Linked DNA regions of Homo sapiens: region 2 is linked to region 1. Evidence: fine-mapped expression QTL. A gene starts in region 1. The other region holds a variant in brackets. All regions are shown on one strand. Distances are between the middles of the regions.

Region 1 (5,376 bases):
GATCTGCCCGCCTTGGCCTCCCAAAGTGCTGGGATTTACAGGCGTGAGCCACCGCGCCCAGCCCCGTCTGACAGTTTCAACCACTTTGCTGTTGCCAAGACTCAGTCAGGATAATTTACTTCAACGAATGGGTTCACAGTAGAATGTATTCCAAGTAAATATAATCTCACAGAGTGAATAAGCCAAAAATCCATGAAATTGGTGAACTCAACAGAATTACTGAGTTTTTGTGTGGTTTTTTTTTTTGGTTTTTGTTTGTTTGTTTGTTTTTTGAGATGGAATCTCACTGTCACCCAGGCTGGAGTGCAGTGGCATGATCTCGGCTCACTGGAACCTCCACCTCCCGGGTTCAAGCGATTCTCCTGCCTCTGCCTCCTGAGTAGCTGGGATTACAGGCATGCGCCACCACGCCTGGCTAATTTTTGTATTTTTAGTAGAGACGGGGTTTCACCATGTTGGTCGGGCTGGTCTACGAACTCCTGACCTCGTGATCCGCCTGCCTTGGCCTCCCAAAGTGCTGGGATTACAGGCGTGAGCCACTGCGCTCGGCCGAGAATTACTTGAGTTTTAGAGACTTAAAAGCTGCTAGTGGAATATCCATGTGGAGATGGCAATAAGAAGCCTAGCTGTAAAAATCAGAATCAGAAACACCAGGTCAGTTCACAGCTAGAAGTCAACTTTGGCAGTCTTCAGCATACAGTGGGTGGCTTATACCATGAACATCTAGGTAAGAACAGTGGACTGAGGACAGACCCTGGAAATGAACAATATTTCAGAGTCAGGAAGTTGTGAAACCAGAGAATTAGTAAGCATATCACTTAAGCTTCTAAATAAAGACCAGTAACATTTAACACATGGTTGCAGTTTATGATGATAATCATTAAGAATACAAATAACAGGACGGGCAGAGTGGTTCACACCTGTAATCCCAACACTTTGGGAGATTGAGGCAGGCAGATCATCTGAGGTTAGGGGTTCCAGACCAGTCTGGCCAACATGGTGAAACCTGGCCTCTACTAAAAATACAAAAATTAGCTGGGCATAGTGGCAAGCACCTATAGTCTCAGCTACTCGGGAGGCTGAGGCAGGAGAATCACATGAACCCAGGAGGCAGAGGCTGCAATGAGCCAAGATTGCGCCACTGCACTCCAGCCTGGGCGACAGTGAGACTATGTCTAAAAAAAAAAAAAAAAGAATACAAATTATGAAATTTCACAGCAGGAAGGTTTTACTTCAGAAAGATTAATGGCATACTAAAAATACAAGAAAAAACACATTCCAAGTCAGATAACTTGGTTATAGCAGCCAAATGCAACACTACTGAATGACATGTATTTAAAACTGAGAGAAAAACAGGAACATGTCAGTAAGAATATAAACACATGGTGTTTGCTTATCTCCCTGCCTTTTTTTTTTTTTTTGAGACAGAGTCTCGCTTTGTTGCCCAGGCTGGAGTGCAATGGCGCAATCTTGGCTCACTGCAACCTCTGCCTCCTGGGTTCAAGCAACTCTCCTGCCTCAGCTTCCCAAGTAGCTGGGATTACAGGTGCTTGCCACCACATCCGGCTAATTTTTGTATCTTTAGTAGAGATGGGGTTTCACCATGTTGACCAGGCTAGTCTTGAACTCCTGACCTCAACTGATTCGCCCACCTCAGCCTCCCACAGTGTTGGGATTATAGGCGTGAGCCACCGCGCCTGGCATCTCCCTGTCCTTATATTTTAAGAAAGGATGATTACAGAAGTGACAATTATAAATCTTCCTCGGGCAGACAAGACACTCCCATAATGATAATAGCTAACCCTTAGGACTCTTACTATGGGTCAGGCACTGTTCTAGGCATTTCAGCATAGTAACTGGTTAAATTCTTACAATCTACTTTTGAAGTAGCTATCTCTAATGTATACACTTGGGGAACTGAGACATAGAATCCTTATGTAACTTGCGTTAAGATCACACAGCTTTTTTTTTTTTTTTTAGTAGAGATGGGCTTTTGCCTCGTTGCCCAGGCTGGTCTCAAACTGCAGGGCTCAAGCGATCCCCCCGCCTCACCCTTCCAAAGTGCTGGGATTATAGGCGTGAGCCACCATGCCCGGCCACATAAATAACTTTTTTTTGAGATAGAGTTTTGCTCTTGTTGTCCAGGCTGGAGTGCAATGGCGCAATCTTGGCTCACTGCAACCTCCGCCTCCCAGGCTCAAGCGATCTTCCCGCCTCAGCCTCCCGAGTAGGTGGGATTACAGGCATGTGCCACCATGCCCAGCTAATTTTGCATTTTAAGTAGAGACGGGGTTTCTCCGTGTTGGTCAGGCTGGTCTCGAACTCTTGACCTCAGGTGATCTGCCCACCTTGGCCTCCCAAAGTGGGATTACAGGTGTGAGCCACTACGCCTGCCCTGACATAAATAATTTTTTTTTTTTTTGAGACAGAGCCTCACTCTGTCGGCCAGGCTGGAGTGCAGTGGCATGATCTCGGCTCACTGCAACCTCCACCTCCCTGGCTCAAGCAGTTCTCCTGCCTCAGCCTCCGGAGTAGCTGGGATTATAGGCGTGTGCCACCATGCCCAGCTAATTTTTGTATTTGTAGTAGAGACGGGGTTTCACCATGTTGGCCAGGCTGGTCTTGAACTCCTGACCTCAGGTAATCCGCCTGTCTCGGCCTCCCAAAGTGCTGGGATTACAGGCGTGAGCCACCGCGCCTGGCCAGTAATTTTTAGAGGTAATACTAACGTATTTATCTACCATTAAAGACCCAGGAGAACTTAGTAGCTGGGAATCCCACTGGTTCTCCCAACTGAGGTGCAATATTATCTTTACCGTCTTTACCTTACGGTAGCGGATATAGTGTTAATAAATGATTAGAATACTGCTTTATGAGCAGGAAATACTGTAATGATTTTCACCCTATCAGAAATAATAAAATGTTTTCTGCATCAGCAGATATTTTTCATCATTTGTTGGTGTTTAAAAATGTTTTCAGAATTCTGAAGATACCATTATCTGTAGTTTAGGAAAACTACGACTCACTTTAAAAGAAAAAAAGTTTTCTTTAATTGCCTGCCCTTAGAAAAGATGGTTCCACAGAACACACTTCCGGTACTCGAGATGAGGACTTCCCTTGAACGCCCATTCTGTAAGACAGATAACGCGTTGGCCCTTAAGAAAGATGGCATCTTTCCGCCTTCTCTGCCCCCTTCCAAGATGGCTGCCCTAATGTACACTTGGGACCTTGCCTGGCGCCTCTTCCGGGCTTGGCAGCGGGCGGGGTCCATTGAGTAAAGCCTTGCGTGCCTGCGCCCGCGACGGAGGCGCGCTTCAAAGCGCAGGCGCGGGGAGGGGGTGGGGGAGGAGGGAAAGCGGCGAGTAAGATGGAAGATGAGGAGGTCGCTGAGAGCTGGGAAGAGGCGGCAGACAGCGGGGTAAGGAGGAGCCGCCGTCCCATGGCAGGGCCGGGCGAGACCTGGCGTGAGGGGAGCCTCCGGGGAGCGGGTCTGGAGATAGTTCTCCCCAAGGAAGGGCCCCATACGCCGGGCTGGGGGTGGTGGAGAGGCCCCCAGTTCCTGAGCGCCGTGAAGGCCTCTTAAAGGGGCCGCGATCCATTTCTCTCCTTTCCTTTGCCTGGTGCGCCTCCCTCCGCCCACTAACGCGCGCGTCACCCGGGGCGCCCCACCCGCCACCCGGGGCCTCCTTTCCTGACCCCCCGCGCCCACTTGCTGGCCGTGGGCCTCTGTGACTCTTTCCGATGAGCCTTGTGGCCCGAGGCACCATTTTAAAGTTCTTGTGCTCTGACCGGGACGGACACACCATGTGGGTGGTGGTGGGGCTTGCGCGGACCAAGGAGGCATGTCCGGCTTCGCAGGAAAGCGGGAGGAGGCAGCCGAGGGCGGGGGGAAATTGAATCCTCTTTGGGCTACTCAACTCTGCTAAAATCCCCCACCATCCGTCACGGTGGACGAGTCGGGTTTTTTTTCTCTTTCACTTTTACTCCAAGAAGAGTTTGTGGGCAGGCAGGCAGGTCTCACGGGGACTCTGCCAAAGCAACCGAAAGCTCTGCGGGGCAGCTCCTCTGCCACTCAGCGATCCGAGGCCCCGGGAAGGTCTAGGAGTTCGCTTGTCGGAGTCCAGGGTGTGATATGTAAAACAGCCACATTCTTGGGAGAGGAGTGGGGAGATGGACCGTTCGACTTGTTTTTGGAGTTTTTGTTTGCCTCCAGAAACTGTAGGAAAATAGTTTATCTCAAAGAGGATCTGTCAATTCTCTTAGATTTGTGAATAATTTGGTCTTTTCAGAGTTTGTCTGTGGTGACCCTTGTGAATATGGGGAGATGCTTTTTTTGTCTCCCCGTGTTCGCGTCTGTTCAATGCTGGCTGCACTGACATCCACCTTAAAGGTTTACGTGTGCGAGGAGTCGAGCGTACCAGGGTAGAGTAGGCGCTGGGTTTTTTTTCCTAAGCGCTTTTTGGGGGTGCTTATGAGCTCTGGAAGAGGCCGGGAAATTGACCCTGGCAGCAGTCAGTGGGTGTATCTAGCTCTACGGGAATGTTGAAACTTGGCTTTGAAGTTTTTTCCGCTGGTTCAGCATTTCTCTCAACGGTTGTTTATGTTTTTCCATTTAGCATAATTGAGAATTTGAAGGATTCGTTCGTTCAGAGGATATTTAGTAGAGTTCTTAATGTGACAACCATCTTTCTTGAGTTTTGGCTTAAGAAAGTTAAAGATTTTATAGGGAGTAACAGGTGTCAGTTGGCTCCTTGTTCATTCAACCAGCATTTTTGAGTGTCTGCTATATGCTAGGCAGTGTGCTTATCAGTGACTTTGTGCCAGAAAATGCAACATTTTCGGTACAGGCGTTTATTGCCTACCACTAATCTGAGTGAATCATCCAGACATCCCTATAAAAAAGCTTGGCTTACAACTTTAATATCATGCAAATGATACGTTTCTTGGGCATCTTGGCCTTTCTTTGGTTTTCCTCACCTGTTTCAAAGGGTCATAAATCCCTCATGTTAGAGAAGTTGGAGGCAAATGAACAAAAATGAATAGGATTCAGCAGAAATTGGGGCTTACTTTAGTTTTTCAGAATGGGTAAGTCAATTAGAAATAGCTAGTACAGTCCCCCATTTAACAGCTGAATAAGCCTAGAGATGTGAGATTTAGAGACTTAGGTCTTTCTGACGCTTGTCGCGTGTTCTTTCTTTTTTCTTTTGGTTCCCAAGTTTTATTGAAAAACTTATACAAAATATTCCAGATAAATGAAATTTAATCCTCATCTTCCTCCTCTTTGTCCTGGTTAATCTGGAAGTAACATAATTTGTAGCTATCTTTGCTGTTAGTAACTAGGAGCAACCAATCACGTAAATTATTCTTCATATATGT
Region 2 (5,376 bases), 27 kb before region 1:
CTTCTCAAATTTTAATGTGAATCTAGTTTATAGATTCAGATTCAGTAAGCCTCGGGTGGAACTTGACACTGTATTCTCACCTTGATGATGCCAGCACTGCCAGTTTGGGGACCTTGAGTATCAAGGTCTTCAGTAACCATTAAAATGTAGCTGGTATCAACACTAGATGAGAAAATGGAATCAACAGGTATTGAGAACATGTGCCAGGTGCCTTATCTCATTTAATCTTTACGTCAACTCTGTGAGGAACATATTATCAATTCTAAGATGAGGATAAGATGAGGAAAATTGAGGCTGAGATAAATTAACTTGCCCATGATTACACAGAACCAGATTTGAACCCAATCATAGGACTCCATTTATTCTTTTTAAGAGATACTATAAATTGTCATTGAAATTAACTTCAAACCATCCTCAAAAGAATAATAGGCCAGGCCAGGCACAGTGGCTCACGCCTGTAATCCTAGCACTTTGGGAGGCCAAGGTGGGCGGATCACCTGAGGTCAGGAGTTCAAGACCAGCCTGCCCAACATGGTGAAACCCCCGCCTCTACAAAAAATACAAAAATTAGCTGGGCACGGCGACAGGCACCTGTAATTTCAGCTACTCGGGAGGCTGAGGCAGAAGAATTGCTTGAACCCAGGAGGCAGAGGTTGCAGTGAGTGGAGATCGCGCCACTGTACTCCAGCCTGGGAGAAAGAGCGAGACTCCGTCTCAAAAAAAAAAAAAAAAAAAAAAAAAAAAAAAAAGAATAATAGGCCAAACACAGTGGCTCACGCCTACACTTTGGGAGGCCAAGGAGGGAGGATTGGCCGGGCGCGGTGGCTCACACCTGTAATCCCAGCACTTTGGGAGGCCGAGGCAGGTGGATCATGAGGTCAGGAGATCAAGACCATCCTGGCTAACACAGTGAAACCCCGTCTCCACTAAAAATACAAAAAATTAGCCAGGTGTGGTGGCAGGCGCCTGTAGTCCCAGCTACTCGGGAGGCTGAGGCAGGAGAATGGTGTGAACCTGGGAGGCAGAGCTTGCAGTGAGCTGAGATCATGCTCCACTGCACTCCAGCCTGGACAACAGAGCGAGACTCCATCTCAAAAAAAAAGAGGGAGGATCGCTTGAGCACTGAAGTTGAGGCTGCAGTGAGCCTCTGCACTGTAGCCTGAGGAACAGAGTATGGCCCTATCTCCAAAAAAAAAAAAAAAAAAAAAAGAATAACAATGTTGCATGACATCTTGTCTTGGATACAGACTTTCACTTTCCTCTATTACCTGTTTCTTCAAAACGTCCTACCTTTTATTGTTATCCCCCTGCTTTGATGCTGGGCATTGTCATCCACACTTGAACCAAAATAGTAGACACCTACCTAACTGTTCTGACTCTAGCCTTTTGCCTCATCAATCTAGAGATTATTCTGCAGTCTCCAGGAATTTACTAAATGTGAGCAGACCAGTAGCATGGTAAAAACAGTGTTTCAAGAGGAATTCAAAGTACTTTACAATCCCACAATGCTCCTATCAAATCTCTCGGGTGGCATATAAACCTAGCTTCCCCACTGATAAACAAAAATATTCTGCAAAGAACATAATACATTTTAACAAGATGCTGTGATGGAATGGAACATTTTATTTCCATTTGTCTTTTTTTTTTTTTTTTTTTTTTTTGAGACGGTGTTTCGCCCTTTTCCCCAGGCTGGAGTGCAGTGGCACAATCGCGGCTCACTGCAACCTCCGCCTCCCAAATTCAAGCAATTCTCCTGCCTCAGCCTCCTGAGTAGCTGGGATTACAGGTGCACATCATCACCCCCGGCTAATTTCTGTATTTTTAGTAGAGATGGGGTTTCACCATGTTGGCCAGGTGGTCTCAAATTCCCAACCTCAAGCGATCCACCCATCTCAGCCTACCAAAGTGCTGGGATTACAGGCGTAAGCCACCCTGCCCAGCGGTCATTTATCTTTTTTCTAGTGGTGGTCAGGGCAAAGGAATGCCTTCCTGCTTCTGCCTCCTACTCACTTCTCTAGAGCAGAGGAGAGGACCTCCTTCCATCACAAGTCATTTCCTACTCCATTCCACATTAATCATTTCCAGAAGTCCATCTATACCATTACTTATCGACACAATGTCACACTATTTCATATTGTTATAGTTTTTTTGTTTTTGTTTTTTTGAGATGAAGTCTCACTGTGTTGCCAGGCTGGAATGCAGTGGCATGTTCTTGGCTCACTGCAACCTCCGCCACCTGGGTTCAAGTGATTCTCCTGCCTCAGCCTCCCGAGTAGCTGGGACTACAGGTGCGTGCCACCACGCCCAGCTAATTTTTGTATTTTCAGTAGAGACAGAGTTTCACCATGTTGGCCAGGATGGTCTTGATGTCTTGACCTCATGATCAGCCCGCCTCAGCCATCCAAAGTGCTGGGATTACAGGCATGAGCCACCACACCCAGCCATAGTTATGTTCTTATGTAAATTTTCTCAATAACCAGATTACACATTTTTGGTTAATACTTGCACAGCTGAACAGATTATGAATTTATGAAAGGTAGATAATGTCTTGATTACATCTTATCCCCAGGAAACCTAAAGGACAGTGGTGTATATGCACATGAAGTAAATCTTTGCTTCACCTGATCATAAAAATCACCTGGCCAAGCACGGTGGCTCACACCTGTAGTCCCAGCTACTTGTGAGTCTGAGGTAGAGGATCACTTAGCCTGGGAAATCCAGGCTGCAGTGAGCCATGATTGTACCACTGCGCTCCAGCCTGGGTGATAAAGCAAGACCCTGTCTCAAGAAAAAATTTAAAAAGTAAATTACCATCCTGGCTAACACAGTGAAACCCTGTCTCTACTAAAAATACAAAAAATTAGCCAGGCGTGGTGGCAGGCGCCTATAGTCCCAGCTCTTGGGAGGCTGAGGCAGAAGAATGGCGTGAACCCGGGATGCGGAGCTTGCAATGAGCCGTGATCGTGCCACTGCACTCCAGTCTGGGCGACAGAGCAAGACTCCAGTCTCAAAAAAAAAAAAGTAAATTAAAAAAATTAAAAATCACCTAGCAGGTAGATTTCCTGGAGACTGTTTCAGAAAAATAGGCATGAAAGCAGAAATCTTAATTCTATCAACAAGCACCACAGATCCAAATCCAGAAAACCTTTGGTAGTA[CT/C]TTTTTTTTTTGAGACGGAGTTTCACTCTTGTTGCCTAGGCTAGAGTGAAATAGTGCCATCTCGGCTCACTGCAGCCTCCGCCTCTCCCAGGTTCATGCAATTCTCCTGCCTCAGCCTCCCGAGTAGCTGGAATTAAAGGCGCCCACCCCGCCCAGCTAATTTTTTGTATTTTTAGTAGAGACGGGGTTTCACCATGTTGGCCAGGCTGGTCTCAAACTCCTGACCTCAAGTGATCCACCCACCTTGGCCTCCCAAAGTGCTGGGATTACAGGCGTGAGCCACTGCGCCCGGCCAACCCTCTACTGAGGGTTAGGGTTTTGCCATGCCAAGGTTAAGTTACTTCTAAAACTTAACCTTATGTTCTCATTTATAATTTTCTTACAATGCTTTATACACTTTACTGAGCAATAGGCTTAAAATACGGTTAATAAAACTTGCAGAAAAATACAAAATAGTATAAGCAGGAGTAGATATTATAGAACAACTGAACCCTTATTTCACAAATGAGGAAAGTGAGGTCAGAAAACCTAAGTGGCTTTAAGGTCATACAGCCAATGAGTAGCAAAAATAGAAACTGTATCTTTTGTCTTTCAGCCCAGCACTTCTTCTATTGTACCATACCAAAATTTATTTATAAAAAATCAGCAGTAAAGCATTATTTACTAATGTCCATCAAAAACAGACCAGTTGAACAAACTCTGGTGCATCCTCACTGTGTAGGTGTGGAAATGAATAAGGACTACCTCTGTTCCAATATGGAATGATCTCCAAAATATACTAGGTGAAAAGACCAAGAGGCTGAGCAGCGTATATAGTAGGAAAACCTTTTGCATAAGAGAAAAAAAGAATATATGCAGATATTTGCTTATTATTGCAAAATCCAACATTTAAAGGATAAACCAAAACCAAATAAATATTAGAATGGTTCAAGCACCAACCATGAGACAACCCTTGGCAATTCCTCCTCAAAGTCCCAGCTATAAAAGTGGTAGTAGGCTGGAAGCCGTGGCTCATGCCTGTAATCCCAACACTTTGGGAGGCCGAGGCGGGCAGATCATGAGGTCAGGAGTTCGAGACCAGCCTGACCAACATGGTAAAACACCGTCTCTACTGAAAATGCAAAAATTATTTGGGAGTGGTGGTGCACGCCTGTAATCCCAGCTACTCAGGAGGCTGAGGCAGGAGAATCGCTTGAACCTGGGAGGTGGGGAGGCAGAGGTTGCAGTGAGCCAAGATTGCACCCCTGCACTCCAGCCTGGGCAACCAAGTGAGACTGCGTCTTTTAAAAAAAAAAAAAAAAAAAAAAAAAGTGGCAGTAAGTTTGAGTGGTGGTCCCTACTATTTGATATTCTTAAAAGTTCTGGGCCGGGTGCGGTGGCTCATGCCTGTAATCCCAGCGCTTTGGTAGGCCAAGGCGGGCGGATCACCTGAGGTCAGGAGTTCGAGACCAACCTGACCAACATGGAGAAAACCCCGTCTCTACTAAAAATACAAAATTAGCCAGGCATAGTGGCGTCTGCCTGTAATCCCAGCTACTCAGGAGGCTGAGGAAGGAGAATCGCTTGAACCTGGGAGGCGGAGGTCGCGATGAGCCAAGATCGCGTCATTGTACTCAAGCCTGGGCAACAAGAGAGAAATTCCGTCTCCAAAAAAAAAAAAAAAAGTTCTGGGCCAGGCGCAGTGGCTCATGTCTGTAATCCCAGCACTTTGGGAGTCTGAGGTGGGTGGATCACCTGAGCCCAGGGGTTCAGGACCACCCTGGACAACATGGCAAAACCCTAACTCTACAGGCCAGGTGCAGTGGCTCACGCCTGTAATCCCAGCACTTTGGGAGGCCAAGACGGGCGGATCACTTGAAGCTGGGAGTTCAAGACCAGCTTGACCAACATGGAGAAACCCCGTCTCTACTAAAAATACAAAATTAGCCGGGTGTGGTGGCACATGCCTGTAATCCCAGCTACTCAGGAGGCTGAGGCAGGAGAATTGCTTGAACCTGGGAGGCGGAGGTTGCGGTGAGCCGAGATCACGCCATTGCACTCCAGCCTGGGCAAGAAGAGCGAAACTCTGTCTCAAAAAAAAAAAAAAAAAAAAACCCTAACTCTACAGAAACAATGGACACGGTGGCACCTGCTTGTAGTCTCTGCTACTAGGGAGGCTGGGGTAGGAGGGTCACCTGAGCCTGGGGAGGTCAATGCTGGAGTAAACCGTGATCGCCCAC

The links. PIP is the estimated chance that this variant, and not a neighbour inherited with it, causes the effect. A credible set is the group of variants that fine-mapping cannot tell apart.
Region 2: its variant is the best candidate, but not a certain one, in a credible set for the expression of SZRD1 in whole blood (TOPMed, PIP 0.64).

The regions. Positions count from the first base shown.
Region 1 is chr1:16,363,891-16,369,266 of GRCh38, forward strand. SZRD1 (SUZ RNA binding domain containing 1) reads left to right here and starts at 3,352. Exons shown (of 4, transcript NM_001114600.3): 1 at 3,352-3,418. The coding sequence starts at 3,368. It also overlaps the pseudogene RPL22P3. RefSeq lists enhancers at 3,049-3,108, 3,859-4,148.
Region 2 is chr1:16,337,168-16,342,543 of GRCh38, forward strand. All of the region lies in intron 1 of FBXO42 (F-box protein 42), which reads right to left. Among named protein-coding and RNA genes, the nearest start is that of FBXO42, 13 kb to the right of the region's middle. The variant CT/C (reference allele first, on the strand shown) is at 3,157.